Regions from separate parts of the Homo sapiens genome. Here region 2 is linked to region 1. The links come from fine-mapping of genetic effects on gene expression. Tissue or cell type: testis. Region 1 holds a variant in brackets; the other region holds the start of a gene. All regions are shown on one strand. Distances are between the middles of the regions.

Region 1 (8,064 bases):
GTGTGGGGGTGCCTGGGGCCCTAGCCTGGCTCCTCACGCTCCCGTCATCCCCTGCTTCTGCTCATCTGGTCACTGGGCTCCAGCCAGGGGCCTCACAGGCAGATCCGCCCCCCACCTCCCTGTAGGCACGCGGGCACACACGTGCCATCACCCCTTCCACACACTCAGGTGCACAGGCGTAGACAAGCGTATGCCCACCTGTCCCTTGTCTGCTTCCGCAGGGGCGCAGCCCAGTGGTTTGGAGTCAGCGGCGACTGGGAGGGGCAGCGGCAGCAGTGGCAGCGCCGCAGCCTGCACCACTGCAGCATGCGCTACGGCCGCCTGAAGGCCTCGTGCCAGCGTGACCTGGAGCTCCCCAGCCAGGAGGCACCGTCCTTCCAGGGCACTGAGTCCCCAAAGCCCTGCAAGATGCCCAAGGTGGGATCCATGGGGAAAGGAGGCAGGGGTGGGGACCCTAATGGCTCTGCTTACCGCCCCCCTCCCTTCCAGATTGTGGATCCGCTGGCCCGGGGCCGGGCCTTCCGCCACCCGGAGGAGATGGACAGGCCCCACGCCCCGCACCCACCGCTGACCCCCGGAGTCCTGTCCCTCACCTCCTTCACCAGTGTCCGTTCTGGCTACTCCCACCTGCCACGCCGCAAGAGAATGTCTGTGGCCCACATGAGCTTGCAAGCTGCCGCTGCCCTCCTCAAGGTGCGGGGCTCCCTCCTGCAGGGCCCCCACCTCTGCCCGGCCTCCCTTCCTTGCCCCTCCCTTCCACTCCTCATAGTAGCATCCCCTAAAGCTCACCTGGGCATCTGCCTACGGTGCCAAGGACAGTGGATGTGCTGGGATCCCTGGGCAAAGAGGGACCCCGAAGCCCAGCACCCAGGCGTCCATCCTTCTGTCTTAAATCTCGTGTGACCCCCTGCCAAGTTTTGGAACCTGGTCTCTGCACTGACTCTTAAGCTGGGGAAGTGGGAAGTGAGATGCATACTTGCTCCTCATCCACCCGGGTTTTCCAAGTCCCTGTTACGTGCTGGGCACCGCGTGCAGAGCCATCGCCATCCTGGCTGAGCTCGCAGCCCAGGGTGAGGGTCACCATTCAGGGTGGTCAGTTTAGGAGAGCGGCTGTTATCAGGGAAGACATTGAGTTAAGCCCAGAAGACACAAGGAGACGTTCACTAGGGAAGGAAGGGAACAGCATTCTCAGCAGAGGGAATGGCCTATGCAAGGGCCAGGAGCCCAGAGGAAGTACAGTGCTTTGAGGGGGCAGCAGGCGGTTTGATGTGGTTTTAGTGAAGGGTGGTTATAGGAGCTGTGGCAGGAGATGGGGTCAGAAAGGTGGGCAGGGACCTGGTATTCCGTGCCAAGAAACAGGGACAGGGAGACATGGCCCAAGCCTCGGGAGTGAGGGTATAGAATGTGGGTTGCTTTGAGTGTTAGGGTACCAGCAGCCCAAGGCAGAGGGGCAGCAGGGACCAAGGGAAAGGTGACTCCAAACTGTGCCAAGAGTGGTGTGCCAACGGAAGCTGGTGTCTCATTTCCTGGCCTTCCAGTCTCAGGAGCTCCTCTTGCCCGTTCAGCTTGCAGAATCTCCACGCTTTGGGCAGGATCCCTCCTCCCAAGGCGCTGCCTGCAGGCGGATGGGCTTGATGATTCCTTCGGTGTTGGGGCTGGGGGCCTAGGTGGCCAGGCTGTGGTCCTGATGGCTGTGCCTCTGCCCGTGCACAGGGGCGCTCGGTGCTGGATGCCACCGGACAGCGGTGCCGGGTGGTCAAGCGCAGCTTTGCCTTCCCGAGCTTCCTGGAGGAGGATGTGGTCGATGGGGCAGACACGTTTGACTCCTCCTTTTTTAGTAAGGCAAGCATGGGGTGTGGGACAGCAGGAGTTGGGTGGGGTGGCCTGGGAGCTGGGTGAGGTGACCTTGGCATTGATCATATTCAGGAACCCCTGAGGGACCCAGAGGCCCACTGCTGGGATGTGGCATGGTCCTATGTGGAGCTGCTGGGCCCCCATCTTTCTGTTGGGTAGGGTGAAGACCTGCGGTGGGGCACAGTGCCACCCGGGAAAGTCACCATTGGGGCTGACGGGCATGTGGCTTCCCAATTCATTGTGAAGAGCCCGTCTGTTCAGCTGTGTCCTGCCCTTGAATTGAGGTTCCGGGGGGCAGTGTTTGGGACAGACTCCTTACACTGTATTTTCTTGTCCCCCACCCCAGGAAGAAATGAGCTCCATGCCTGATGATGTCTTTGAGTCCCCCCCACTCTCTGCCAGCTACTTCCGAGGGATCCCACACTCAGCCTCCCCTGTCTCCCCCGATGGGGTGCAAATCCCTCTGTGAGTGCTGGGGCAGAGTCCCTCCTCCAGGCCAGCCACCAGCCTGGGGGCATCCCCAGACCTCACCCTGGCCCCCAAGCCCCTTCTGAGCACCCTGGTGGGGTCTGGGAGTATTTTGGTGGGGGATTCAGGCTGAAAGCCACCATCCCCACCAGGAAGGAGTATGGCCGAGCCCCAGTCCCCGGGCCCCGGCGCGGCAAGCGCATCGCCTCCAAGGTGAAGCACTTTGCCTTTGATCGGAAGAAGCGGCACTACGGCCTCGGCGTGGTGGGCAACTGGCTGAACCGCAGCTACCGCCGCAGCATCAGCAGCACTGTGCAGCGGCAGCTGGAGAGCTTCGACAGCCACCGGTGAGGTGTCGCCCTGGAGCCCCCAGGAGAGCCTGGAAGGTTCCAAATTCCTCTGGGCCCTCCTGAAGCGCCCCCTTACTCATTCAGCAAGTGTTTCATGAGCATCTTCTGCGGATCAGGAGTGTAGTGACAAGCTCGAAGGCGCACCCTGTCCCAAGGGTTGTGCACATGACCTGGGAAGGGCCAGGGGTGCTTGCTGCCTCTCTTCCACCCCATGCTTTCTGAGCCTGGTCCCCAGCCTTGCTCCCAGACAGCAGTCAGTCAACAAATGTTCATTGAGTGTCACTGCCTGCAGGCCCTAAAATGGAACCCCCAGAGGGTGGAGCAGGGAGGGCAGGGTCGGTCAGAGGACAGTTAGAAGCTGGGGCCAGGGCTGGGCGCCGTGGCTCACACTTGTAATTATAGCACTTTGGGAGGCTGAGTCAGAAGGATTGCTTGAGCCTAGGAGTTTGAGACCAGCCTGGGCAACATAGTGAGACCCTACCTCTACTTTAAAAGAAGAAGCTGGGGCTGGGAGGGAGGGGACTCTGGGAGAGGCTATGCAGAGCCCTTGGGGAAGAACAGGGCATCTGATTTGCAGCAGCCCAATAAACACTGGGCCCAAATTAGAAAATAACAAGCAGGCAGGGCGCGGTGGCTCACGCCTGTAATTCCAGCACTTTCTGAGGCCGAGGCAGGCGGATCACCTGAGGTCAGGAGTTCAAGACCAGCCTGGCCAACATGGTGAAACCCCATCTCTACTAAAAATACAAAAAATTAGCCGGGCGTGGTGGTGCATGCCTGTAATCCCAGCTACTCGGGAGGCTTGAGGCAGGAGAATCACTTGAACCTGGGAGGCAGAGGTTGCAGTGAGCCAGGATCGCACCATTGTACTCCAGCCTGGGCAACAAGAGCGAAATTCCATCTCAAAAAAAAAAGAAAGAAAAGAAAAAGAAAATAACAAGCAATGGC[C/T]AGGCCCGGTGGCTCACACCTGTAATCCCAGCACTTCGGGAGGCCTAGGTGGGCAGATCACCTGAGGTCAGGAGTTCGAGACCAGCCTGGCCAACACAGTGAAAACTGGTCTCTACTAAAAAGACAAACAAAATTAGGCAGGTATGGTGGGTGCTTGTAATCCCAGCTACGAGGGAGGCTGAGGCAGGAGAATCGCTTGAACCTGGGGGCGAAGGTTGCAGTGAGCTGAGATCGCACAACTGCATTCCAGCCTAGGTGACAGAGCGAGACTCTGTCTCAAAAAAAAAAAAAGAAAAGAAAAGAACAAGCAATGATAGGTGTGGTGGGTGTCCCGGAGGAGGATAGAGAGGGAGAGTGAACAGCTGGTGGGGAGGGGTGCAGTCAGGACAAACTGTGATGTCATGTGCAAAGGCCCTGGGGCTGGAAGGGCAAAGTACATCCCAGGAAATGCAGGCAAAGAGGCCAGAGAGGTGGTCGGTCAGGCAAAGCTTTGCAGCCAGCAAGAGGGGGTGATTCTGGAATTTGTCCCAAGGCCAGTGGAAAGCTATCAAAAGGTTTTAAGCTAGGAGAGAGATGCTTGGAGGCTCGTCTTAAAAGTTCCTCTGGTTTGAGATGAGTTGACGGGGCAGAACAGGGAGCCCAGGCGAGCCATGTGACCAGGCCAGGGTGGCCCTGTGGCCGGGACTGGGGGTTGGGATAGGAGCTCGGCTCAGCTGACCCGAGGTGTCTCTGCACAGGCCCTACTTCACCTACTGGCTGACCTTCGTCCATGTCATCATCACGCTGCTGGTGATTTGCACGTATGGCATCGCACCCGTGGGCTTTGCCCAGCACGTCACCACCCAGCTGGTGAGTCGGGTCAGGCTCCATGCTGGGGGTCCCAGCCTCTCCTAGGAGGCCTCAGTGTCGTGGGTACCTAATCCCTCCCACCGCAACAATCTGGCCCCAGCAGGGTGGTGCTCACCATAGCCTGGCCCCTTCCTGGAGGCTCTATCCTGGGGACAGCTGCCCCAGCTCCCCATGCCCAGGGCCCACACTGTTCTGACGCCCTCCTCTGTGCTACCTCCACGATAGGTGCTGCGGAACAAAGGTGTGTACGAGAGCGTGAAGTACATCCAGCAGGAGAACTTCTGGGTTGGCCCCAGCTCGGTGAGGGCCCAGGCTGGGGGACATCATCTGAGCCAGGAGTCCCTGTGCCCTGTCACTCCCAGCTGGGCAGGTGGGCTCCTCACCCACCCGCAGGCCCCTCATCAGGGGAGACTCTGCGGGGCAGAGGTGGAGTGATGGACCCCTCCCAGGTCTGGGGCTCAAACTCACTCTCTCCCCTCCCTTTCCCTTCCCCAGATTGACCTGATCCACCTGGGGGCCAAGTTCTCACCCTGCATCCGGAAGGACGGGCAGATCGAGCAGCTGGTGCTGCGCGAGCGAGACCTGGAGCGGGACTCAGGCTGCTGTGTCCAGAATGACCACTCCGGATGCATCCAGACCCAGCGGAAGGACTGCTCGGTGGGGGCAGGCCCTCCCTCCTACCCCTGCCAGACCCTGGTCCCGGACTAGCTCCACTTGCCCTGTCCTTCAAGGGCAGTGACCACGTTCCCTCCTCCCCGCCCCACCTTTCCCAGACCCCCATAGATGAGACTGAGCCCTGGGGAGATGGGAAAAGCCTCTGTCCTTGCCCACTCCAGTGGGGGTGACCTGGCCCCGACATGACCCACCAGCCTTCTTCTGCCCTCCAGGAGACTTTGGCCACTTTTGTCAAGTGGCAGGATGACACTGGGCCCCCCATGGACAAGTCTGATCTGGGCCAGAAGCGGACTTCGGGGGCTGTCTGCCACCAGGACCCCAGGTAGGGCCTGGAGCCTCTGCTGGGCCTCAGGGTCAGGCATAGCCATGCCATCTGAGCCACCCACAGGGACGTGGGTAGGTGGACGTGGCACGCTGGGTGTGCCACAGCCCAATCTGAACCCTGTCTCCAGGACCTGCGAGGAGCCAGCCTCCAGCGGTGCCCACATCTGGCCCGATGACATCACTAAGTGGCCGGTGAGTGTCCCTGGCGGGGAGTGGTCTGGGAAGGTCAGGGATGGGGGACCTGCCTGCTGCACAGCCCACTTCCCTGCCGGTGCCCCCTCCTGGCAGATCTGCACAGAGCAGGCCAGGAGCAACCACACAGGCTTCCTGCACATGGACTGCGAGATCAAGGGCCGCCCCTGCTGCATCGGCACCAAGGGCAGGTGAGCGACCTGGGCCCTGGCCTCAGCCATCCCACTGCCCCCCCGAGCTGCGGCTTCCTGTGGGCCCTCTGCTCCTCCACCGTCACCACCCACAGCCGCTGGGCCGATGCCCTCCAATAACTGTCCTTTGCTCCCCTGCTCTGGGGCTACCCATGGTGCGAGCTGGAGGAAGGAAGCTTGCTCCAGAGTCGAAGGTTCTGGATGCGGCATCCCCCTTCCTGCCAGCGATGCCTCCTGTAGCCAGGTGCTGGGCTCTGGGCAAAGGTGGGCAGTGGTTATTCGGCGCCCTGATGTCCCCTCTTGCCTCACCACCCCCTTAGCTGTGAGATCACCACCCGGGAATACTGTGAGTTCATGCACGGCTATTTCCATGAGGAAGCAACACTCTGCTCCCAGGTGAGGCGAGGCAGGCCTGGAGTAGTGGAGGAGAGGACGCTGGGCATGGCAGCCTGCTGGGGCCGGGGCTCACGCACTCCCTCCCATGTCGGAGCCTCAGACTCAGCCTGCTTCTGGGGCGCTGAGCACCATATGCCCACTCCCAGGTGCACTGCTTGGACAAGGTGTGTGGGCTGCTGCCCTTCCTCAACCCTGAGGTCCCAGATCAGTTCTACAGGCTCTGGCTGTCTCTCTTCCTACATGCTGGGTAAGAGGCTCCTCACTGCCCCCGAACCCGACCCCTGTGATGGCCACCCAGCCGGACCCCTGGGGAAAGGTTCCTGGGCCAGGGCATGGCCGGCCCAACCTGCCGAAGCCTACTGCTCCTGAAGTGCCTGGCTGAAGGCCGCTGCCTGGTGTGTCCCTCCCCCAGCGTGGTGCACTGCCTCGTGTCTGTGGTCTTTCAAATGACCATCCTGAGGGACCTGGAGAAGCTGGCCGGCTGGCACCGTATCGCCATCATCTTCATCCTCAGTGGCATCACAGGCAACCTCGCCAGTGCCATCTTTCTCCCATACCGGGCAGAGGTAAGGATGTGGAGGATGGGACCCCTTCCGCACATAGGGGGCCAGCCCTGCTGCTCCTATTCCACCCACCTGGGATCTGCCAGAGGGACACGGTGCCCCTCCTGTACTGGGCTCCACAGCGGAGGGACAGCTAATCTGGGGGCTTACTGGCTGGTCTCTTAATCCCAGTGAGAGGGAACAGTGATGCTCTTGAGTCACCCTGTCCCTCCACCGCCTCATTTATCTTCCTAACCGTGCCCACTGCCTGACAGTATGCTAGGTATCTGCAGGTCGAGCGGTAGGAAATGGCCTCCGTGCGCCGTCGGCAGTCTGATCAGTTCCACCTGACTGATCTAGTTTGTTCAGTGTCCGTCCTCTCCCCACCGTGTGCGGCCTGGAACAGGCTTGTCTGTCTTGCTTATTGCTACGGACCCACACCAGGCACGTACACAGTAGGCGCTCAGTGTTTGCTGAAAGAATGGGCGGAGCAGGCCCAGCTTTGGTCCAGCAGCTCCAGCCGACCCCCTGCCCCTCAGCCTCAGGGGTCCCCATGCCTGCCAGGGAGGAGCTGATCGATGGGATGACCCAGGGTGCAGGCCCGGCCCAGGCCACCCACCTGATGCCTGAAGCCACGTCTCCCCTGCCCCGCCCCAGGTGGGCCCGGCCGGCTCACAGTTCGGCCTCCTCGCCTGCCTCTTCGTGGAGCTCTTCCAGAGCTGGCCGCTGCTGGAGAGGCCCTGGAAGGCCTTCCTCAACCTCTCGGCCATCGTGCTCTTCCTGTTCATCTGTGGCCTCCTGCCCTGGATCGACAACATCGCCCACATCTTCGGCTTCCTCAGTGGCCTGCTGCTGGCCTTCGCCTTCCTGCCCTACATCACCTTCGGCACCAGCGACAAGTACCGCAAGCGGGCACTCATCCTGGTGTCACTGCTGGCCTTTGCCGGCCTCTTCGCCGCCCTCGTGCTGTGGCTGTACATCTACCCCATTAACTGGCCCTGGATCGAGCACCTCACCTGCTTCCCCTTCACCAGCCGCTTCTGCGAGAAGTATGAGCTGGACCAGGTGCTGCACTGACCGCTGGGCCACACGGCTGCCCCTCAGCCCTGCTGGAACAGGGTCTGCCTGCGAGGGCTGCCCTCTGCAGAGCGCTCTCTGTGTGCCAGAGAGCCAGAGACCCAAGACAGGGCCCGGGCTCTGGACCTGGGTGCCCCCCTGCCAGGCGAGGCTGACTCCGCGTGAGATGGTTGGTTAAGGCGGGGTTTTTCTGGGGCG
Region 2 (8,071 bases), 27 kb before region 1:
GCTGGAAAGAGTATGGGTGTGGGGCCCAGCACCCAGCCCTGCTCTCTCTCACCACCTGTGCGTTCTTGGGCACAGTCCTACACTTCTCTGAACCTTGACAAGGAAGTCAGCATCCAGCATCCTCTCATTCAAAAGATTCACTGTTCCTTTTTTTTTTTTTTTTTTTTTTTTTGAGATGGAGTCTCACTCTGTCGCCCAGGGTGGAGTGCAGAGGCGCGATCTCAGCTCACTGCAGCCTCCACCTCCCAGGTTCAAGCGATTCTCCTGCCTCAGCCTCCCAAGTAGCTGGGATTACAGGCATGTGCGATCATGCCTGGCTAATTTTTGTATTTTTAGTAGAGATGGGGGTTCCATCATGTTGTCCAGGTGGGTCTCGAATTCCTGACCTCAAGTGATCCACCACCGGCTTGGCCTCCGAAAGTGCTGGGATTACAGGTGTGAGCCACCACACCCGGCCGCTCACGTTCTAAAAATGAAAAAAGCTAAACATAGACCCCTAATATTTTACTCCCGTGGACAAATACCAGGGCGTCCTTCAAAGGTGTGTTGTCGGAGCTTTTCTGAGTTTGCTAACTAATGGCTTCAAGACCCTCTGCCCTTTTCTTCCGAGGATCACAAAGTGAGTCTTGAGGGGGTCTCAGGGTGTGCAGTTCCCAGGGTGGGTCCCTCTCTGGGGCATGTTCTCCTGCCTTCCTCTAAGGCAGTACTCACTGAGGACCAACGCTTCTCAATGTCAAACTCTGTCGCTGGTCTTAATTCCACAGCAGCCTCAGTGTCCTCATCTGTAAAGCCTGACCTGCCTATCTGCAGAATTGTTGTCAAGATTTAAAAAATAAAATAGGCTGGGCGCAGTGGCTCATGCCTGTAAACCCAGCACTGTGGGAGGCCGAGGCGGGAAGATCGCTTGAGTCCAGGAGTTCAAGACCAGCCTGGGCAACATAGTGAGACCTCCATCTCTACAAACAATAAAGCAAAATTAGCTGAGTGTGGTGGCCTGTAGTCCCAGCTACTCAGGAGGTTGAGGTGGGAGGATCACTTGAGCCCAGGAGGTTGAGGCTACAGTGATTCCCATTGTACCACTGCACTCCAGCCTGGATGACAGAGCAAGATAACGGCCTCAAAAAATAATAATAGGCCGGGCACAGTGGCTCACACCTGTAATCCCAGTGCTTTGGGAGGCTGAAGTGGGCAGATCACGAGGTCAGGAGATCGAGACCATCCTGGCCAATATGGTGAAACCCCATCTCTACTAAAAATACAAAAAAAAAGGCCAGGCACAGTGGCTCATACTTGTAATCCCAGCACTTTGGGAGACAGAGGCAGGAGGATCACCTGAGGTTGGGAGTTCGAGACCAGCCTGACCAACATGGAGAAACCCCATCTCTACTAAAAATATACAAAATTAGCCAGGTGTGGTGGTGCATGCCTGTAATCCCAGCTACTTGGGAGGCTGAGGCAGGAGAATCGCTTGAACCCGAGAGGTGGAGGTTGTGGTGAGCCGAGATTGCGCCATTGCACTCCAGCCTGGGCAACAAGAGAGAAACTCTGTCTCAAAAAAAAAAAATTAGTTGGATGTGGTGGCGCATGCCTGTAATCCCAGCTGCTCGGGAAACTGAGACACGAGAATCACTTGAACCCAGAAGGCCGAGGTTGCAGTGAGTGGAGATTGCGCCACTGCACTCCAGCCTGGCGACAGAGCGAGACTGCGGTTCAAAAATAAATAAATAATAATAATAAATGAAATAGTGTCTGTGAAAGCATGTTTTAAAGGAGGGGACACAAGCAGAAAATATGAGGGTGCAATTTCCTAGTTGAAGAATGCCTCATGGGCTCCCCCTTGCTTACAGAAGAAAGTAAAAACCCTTATCCAGACACACAGCAGCCTCCACCCTGAGCCCCCGCTGCCTCCCCAGGCTTCTCCTGTCCTCCTCCTCACACAGCCTGCGATGTAGCCAAGCCATAGCACCAGAAGCTTCCCCACCACAGCCAGTTTCCCGGCTGTGTCTTCGTTCTTGTTCTTCCCACTAGAAATCCCTTTCCTTATCCCAATCTGTGAAGATCTTCCCTACACCTGTAGGTCCATAAAAATAAAAAAGCTTAGACGGTGTTTTTCACTTATTCTTTCTTTTTCTTTTCCTTTTTTTTTTTTTTTTTTTTTTGAGACAGAGTTTCCCTCTTATTGCTTAGGCTGGAGTGCAATGGTGCAATCTCAGCTCACTGCAACCTCTGCCTCCCGGGTTCAAGCGATTCTCCTGCCTCAGCCTCCCGAGTAGCTGGGATTACAGGCATGTGCCACCACGCCTGGCTAATTTTGTATTTTTAGTAGAGATGGGGTTTCTCCATGTTGGCCAGGCTGGTCTCGAACTCCCGACCTCAGGTGATCTGCCCGCCTCGGCCTCCCAAAATGCTGGTATTACAGGAGTGAGCCACTGCGCCCGGCCAACAGTGTTTTTCTTTAAGTTATAAAAGTAAAATATGTAAAGTGTAATCCCACCGATTTTGGAGGCCAAAGCAGGATCACTTGAATCCAGGAGTTTGAGGCCAGCCTGAGCGACGTAGTGAGGCCCCCCCCCACCGCCCACCACCATCTCTACAAAAAAAAAATTTAGTTAGCCAGAAAGGATGGCGTGCACCTATAGTCCCAGCTACTCAGGAGGCTGAAGTGGGAGGATCACTTGAGCCCCAGAGGTCGAGGCTGCAATAAGCCATGAGTATACTGTACTCCAGCCTGGGTGACACCAAAACCTTGTCTCAAAACAAAAACAAAGAGTTTAGACAGTGTTTCTCTTTAAGTTATGTAAGTAATATATGCACATGATACAAAATGAAAAGCAAGTGACTCTCTCCCCCTAAACCCCTGCAGGGTTACTCCACAGATATCCTTCCAGAAAGTTTGTATGGATCTACCAACATATATATGTCTGTTCTATTTAAATTTAGGTAAATAGGATTATACTAAACATGCAGCTTGCTTTTTTTTTTTTAACTTACTATAAGTTGGAGATAATTCCTTTCTCAGTACATGGATAGCTGCCTCGTTGCTTTTAACAGCTGTGTGACATTATCACAAGTTATACCCCTGGCCTATTTAACATTCTTCCCTCTCTGGCCTCACAGGTGCGTGTTGCTGCAGCCAAGGCTGTAATCAGCCTCCCTGCACCTATGTGGCCGGGCAGCACGCCATGTTTGCATGGGACAAATCCCTGACACCAGCTTAAGCACCACCATGAATCCCTCCCCTCCTGGGGACTCCTGCAGAGCTTCCAGTAGAGCTCCAGGAGAGAGAACCCAGCTCAGGCATTTGCAGCAGTGTTTGTTAGAGTCTAAAGTCAGATCATGACCGAGTTTAAACCCCAGCTGCTCCCCTCACATCTCCCTCTGCCTCAGTTTTCTCATCCCTAAAATGGGGATGATCATAATGGTACCCACTTCATAGACCTGTACTGCGGATTATACAGACTAAAGCACTTTGGAATGGCTAGCTGCTCTCACCCTTCCTGTTACAGTATTGAGTTCCAACGTCTCCCTGTAGAATGCTGGCACTTCGTGGGCAGGCCCTGGTTTTGTTCCTCTCTGCACATAACCCCAGGATGTGCTGGTTGCACAATAAATGGTCCCTTACATTTGTTACTAGGAGCAACCCCCACCCCAGCTTTGGCCCACTCCCCCTCCTTCCAGCCTGTGCCCTCCTCATGGCCCCAGAGCTGGGGAGGAGAGATGCATCTCTCAGGATAATCTCCAGCAGCCAGGTGCTCCCCACCTCCACCCAGGTCAGCAATAAACACCAGAGTCCTTGGGTTGGGGGGCAGGGTGGCTCAGGAGCTCTCTAAGGGCCAGAGGTTTTGCCTTGGCCCTGACAACCCCACCCCCACCCCTCCAAGCCTGAGTCTCTTCAAACTCTGCTCCTCCTGGCCTAGCCAGGCCTCCTGGAGAGGGACGGCGAGATGATAAGCGCTGGGGCTGAGAACGGGGCATCCAGACCTTGGAGTTCGGTCCTAGCTGCCCTGGCCAAGGTTTTGTTTGTCTAGTCCCAAGAGGCAGGCCCTTGGAGTCCAGGGAAGAGAGAAGGAACCACCTGGGCAGACAGACCCAAGCCAAGGGGCCAGGTGTCGCCAGCGTCCCCAATCTCCAGTCTGGCTCTGGCCCGCATGGCAGCTGGAAGGGCCAGAGCTGGGTGGGTTCTGTCAATGCTTCTACGGGGTGTGTAGGGGGTTGGCAGGAGTCACAAATGTTGGCCTTAGCTGCAGGGCAAATGCAGATAGGACCTCCACGGAGTGCCTGTTCCCAACCCAAGGGCACAGCAGAGCTAGGAGAGAGGCCTCAGGGTCCAGGAGGGAGAGGAGGTGTTCAGGCCCAGCTTCCCGGAGAGAGTGTGACTACAGACTAAAAGGGTCAAGGGAACAGGCCCACTTGGCCTGAGGATGAGGGCGCTGGAAGAAGGGGATGGGAGATTGGGTGCTTTTTCTTGATGGGGAGGGGCGACTTGAAGACGGCAATCAAGACCTAGATGACGTGTTTGGTCTGGGGTGGAGTGAGGACGCCAAGAGGGAAAGGACGGCGCCCTGAAGAGACCAGCTCAGGCGAAAACAGGGCTCTGCCCAGGCGGGGACCCAGCTGGGTGGAGGGCGGAGGCAGGAACCCAGGAAGCCGACTGAGCAAAGACTGCGTCCAGGCCCCGCCCCCATGAGCCCGGCCACGCCCCCTGGAGCCCAGCCCCGCCTCCCGGCCGCCCGCGCGCAGGTAGGGAAGAGGCGGAGCGCCGCCGCCCCGCCCCCGAGGAGCCACCGCCCAGCCGCTCGCAGGCGCCGCACGGAGTTGCGTCCCGGGGACTTGGGGCCGCAGGGAGGTGAGCGCGGGGCGACGAGCGGGGCAGGACTCACGGCCGCCCAGCCGCAGGCGCCGGAAGGGTCCCGAGGTTGTGCCCGAGCCTGCCCTGGAGCGGTGGTGCGCGGCCAGGAAGGGTGCCCAGTGCCCGGTGCCCGCCCTGCGGAGCGCCTGGGTCCCACGTGGGCTCGGCTGGAGGCCCGGGCTGGCTCAGACGGCGCCGGCGGGGCCGCTGGACCCGGTCTGCTGGCCCCTAGGGCTCGGCTCGGACAGGACGCCTAAGGGGTCCCTGGGCGACGGGGCGCCAGATGTAGGGGCAAGACGATTGGGCAGAGATTTAAACCTCCGGAGGAAGAGAGGAGACTGCGCAGGGCAGTCCCGCCTGCGTCCCAGAAGTGCCTGCAGTTCAGACCCTTCTCTCCCCTCCACTTTCTCCCGGGTGAGCACCGGGCGGACCGGGGCCGAAGTTTGTTGGTTGAGCCAGCCAAGGTGGAAACAGGTGCGGGGGTGGGGATGAGGGACTCACACAGCAGGGCTGGACCGGAGCTCAGAAATTGGACCCAGGAGTCCTGACTTCTGGATGGAGGGGCTGGGGAAGGTTGGCCCTGGGCTTGCCTTTTACCTGTTTGGCCCCTCGGATGTTCCCCCAGGGCATTGGGATAGAGACGGATAAGTTCCCTAGGGTACAGACCCCGCCCCACTCCCACGCCAGGGCGCAAAGGAAGCCTAGGTTTTGGCCCTGCCCCATTCCATGAAAGATTAACGGAGGGGGCTCTAGGGTTGGAGCTACTGAGAGGGTGGCAGCGGGTGTGTCTGAGGAGCAGAAGGCGGTGGGGAGCTGACCCCACTTGGGGAGAGGCTGCTGTTGCCTGGGCGGCTGGCATCAGGCCCCCAGTGTGTGCCATTTGCTGGTAATATAATGAGACCAGCATCTGCCTTATTCGACCCTCACTGTCCGTAGGGCAGGCAGTGGAAAGGGAGGCGTGTTTTAGAGCTGTGGTTCTCAACCAGGGGCGACTTTGCCTGCCATGGGATATTTGGCAATGTTGGAGTCATTTTGGGTGTCACACACTTGGGAGGGGAAGTGAGTGTTGTTGTTACTGGCAGGTAGTGGGTAGAGGCCAGGGACGCTACCAGACATCTTCAGGGCACGGAACAGCCCACATAACGAGGAATTATCCAGCCCAAGGTGTTGGGCTGTGCTGAGGCTGAGAAACCCTGCGCAGCAGCTGGTCCATCAGGTTCCTTCTCAATGATGCTCCCTCACTGGGGAAACTACCTCAGTTTTCCAGAGTGGTTAGGGGAGGAACTTGGAATAAACCTGAATGAGATGAGGGGTAAGGCAGTGTGAGGGCACTTATTCCCCTCACAAGAGTCTTCCTTTGGTGCCATGAGACACCGCCTTTCCCAATCTCCACTGGCCCTGCAGGAAGCTGGTCTAGGTGCTGTGGGGGAGAGGTTGGGAACAGAGGACCCCCTTGCAGCCCAGGCCTGGGGTGCTTAACCCCAGGGCAATCTCCCAGGAAGGCTGGGCTGAGGCAGCCCTTGAGCTCAAATATCCCTGGGCTGGGAGGGTGGGCAGAGGGCGAGCTCTCTTCCCATAGATTTTCCCAAAGCTGGATTGCTGAAGCTGGCATGGTTGCCTGATACCATGTGACCTGCTGGAATTTTCCCTTCTGAACTCACACCTAACTCCTCCAATTATGTACACCTTTTGAAAGTGACATCCAAGGAGTATCAGGGCTCCTAATTCCTGGGGGGTCCCCAGGCTGCTTTTGTCCTGCAATAAAGAGGGCACCCTGGGTTAGCTGACGAGCCCTGGAGTGGGCCCAGCTGCTGATGGGGTGGAGGCACCCCTGCCCATGGTGTTAGCTGAGCAGAGGTGAGAGATGGGAGACATCAAAGCACAGGCCAGGTGGCCCCCCAGTAGGGATGACTCAGAGTTGTTTGTATTGGGCTGGAGGAATGTACTTCCAGTTTTCTGGCAACAAGGAGGGGTGGCTGGCACGGTGGGAGAGGATCGGATGAAGCAGCCACGTCCATGCCCAGGAGCTGGGGCCACCTCGCTGCCCTCCCTCCCTGTTTTCTTGCAGTAGCCATTATACCCATCCTGTTCACTTCTGGACCCAGCCTTCTTGCCTGGGAACCCTGGTGGAGGTTTCGAGCTTGGGTTCTTTTTGTTGGTGTTGGTGGCTTTTGTTTTTTTTGTTTTGTTTTGTTTTTGTTTTTGTTTTTTTGGTCTCTTGACTGTAAAAGGCTGAAGTGAAACTCCCACCTTTTCATTTGCACAAAAAACAAAAGTGGCCTCCATTGCTGTGAGCCTCTCAAGGGACAGGGCTGAGCACCCAGGCTTGTACAAAGTTGTTCAGGAAGTCGGCAGTGGAGCTCGGGTGTGAACCCAGTTGCCCACCCTCAGGCCCCACCCAAGAGCCCCACGAACAAACCCTCAGTGACTCCTACCTGTCTGTACCTGGTGTAACCACACACACACACAGACACACACAAACAGACACACAGAGACACACACAAACACACAGACACACACAGACTCACACACACACACACACACACACACACACACACACTCTCTTTCTCTCCAGCCCAGGAGGGGGACTTTTGTTCCTATAAGAGGAGGAATAAATCACACTACAAATGCTTTGGGTGACGCACTTGGGGCCCGAGTCCTGCTCTGGGGTCAGTGGTGCTGTTTTTCCTGTGGCCTCAGCTCTGGATACTGTGGTGGCCTCTCCACCAAGGTTTCTGTCCTTGCTGTGTAAACTCTGCCCCAGACAAGGTGACAGATGACAGCAGAAGTCAAGGAGCTGTGCACGCCTGCCCGTGAGTGTGCGAGTGGCATGGCTCAGCTGGCTGGTGCTTCCCTTTGGGCCTGGCCCCCGCCTGCCGCTGGCACAGCACAGGGAAGACGTGTGCCCTCCTGGCTGCCTCTCCCCCTCCACACTCTCCTCAGATCTCTGTGCCTCGCACTCTGGAGCAGGCCTCGGCGCTGCCCCATCTGCCCCAGGGGATTTCCAGAGTGAGCTCAGGCATCTGCACCGGCTGTGGAAGCGCTGGCTGTCGGAAGCGGCTCCCAGTTTCCTATCCAGCTGAGCCAGGCTGGGGGAGGAGTGGCGGGGACGTCTGCGCCTGCCCAAGTACAGGCTGACCTCGGCGGTGGTGGTGGCTAGGCAGGGACAGCTCTCAGGGCACGGGCGGCTTCACAGGGAAACCAAGCCTGCCCGGAACGTCG

What was found. PIP is the estimated chance that this variant, and not a neighbour inherited with it, causes the effect.
Region 2: RHBDF2 starts here. The variant in region 1 is fine-mapped to the expression of RHBDF2 in testis (GTEx, PIP 0.97).

The regions. Positions count from the first base shown.
Region 1 is chr17:76,471,435-76,479,498 of GRCh38, reverse strand. RHBDF2 (rhomboid 5 homolog 2) reads left to right here. Exons shown (of 19, transcript NM_001005498.4): 5 at 222-417; 6 at 490-693; 7 at 1,714-1,842; 8 at 2,201-2,319; 9 at 2,475-2,669; 10 at 4,358-4,469; 11 at 4,695-4,769; 12 at 4,965-5,126; 13 at 5,357-5,466; 14 at 5,597-5,660; 15 at 5,757-5,851; 16 at 6,172-6,247; 17 at 6,394-6,494; 18 at 6,660-6,813; 1 more. The coding sequence ends at 7,866. Among named protein-coding and RNA genes, the nearest start is that of AANAT, 7.9 kb to the right of the region's middle. RefSeq lists an enhancer at 5,691-6,201. The variant C/T (reference allele first, on the strand shown) is at 3,621.
Region 2 is chr17:76,498,128-76,506,198 of GRCh38, reverse strand. RHBDF2 (rhomboid 5 homolog 2) reads left to right here and starts at 4,776. Exons shown (of 19, transcript NM_001005498.4): 1 at 4,776-4,846. RefSeq lists enhancers at 4,359-4,498, 4,849-5,518 and a silencer at 4,549-5,188.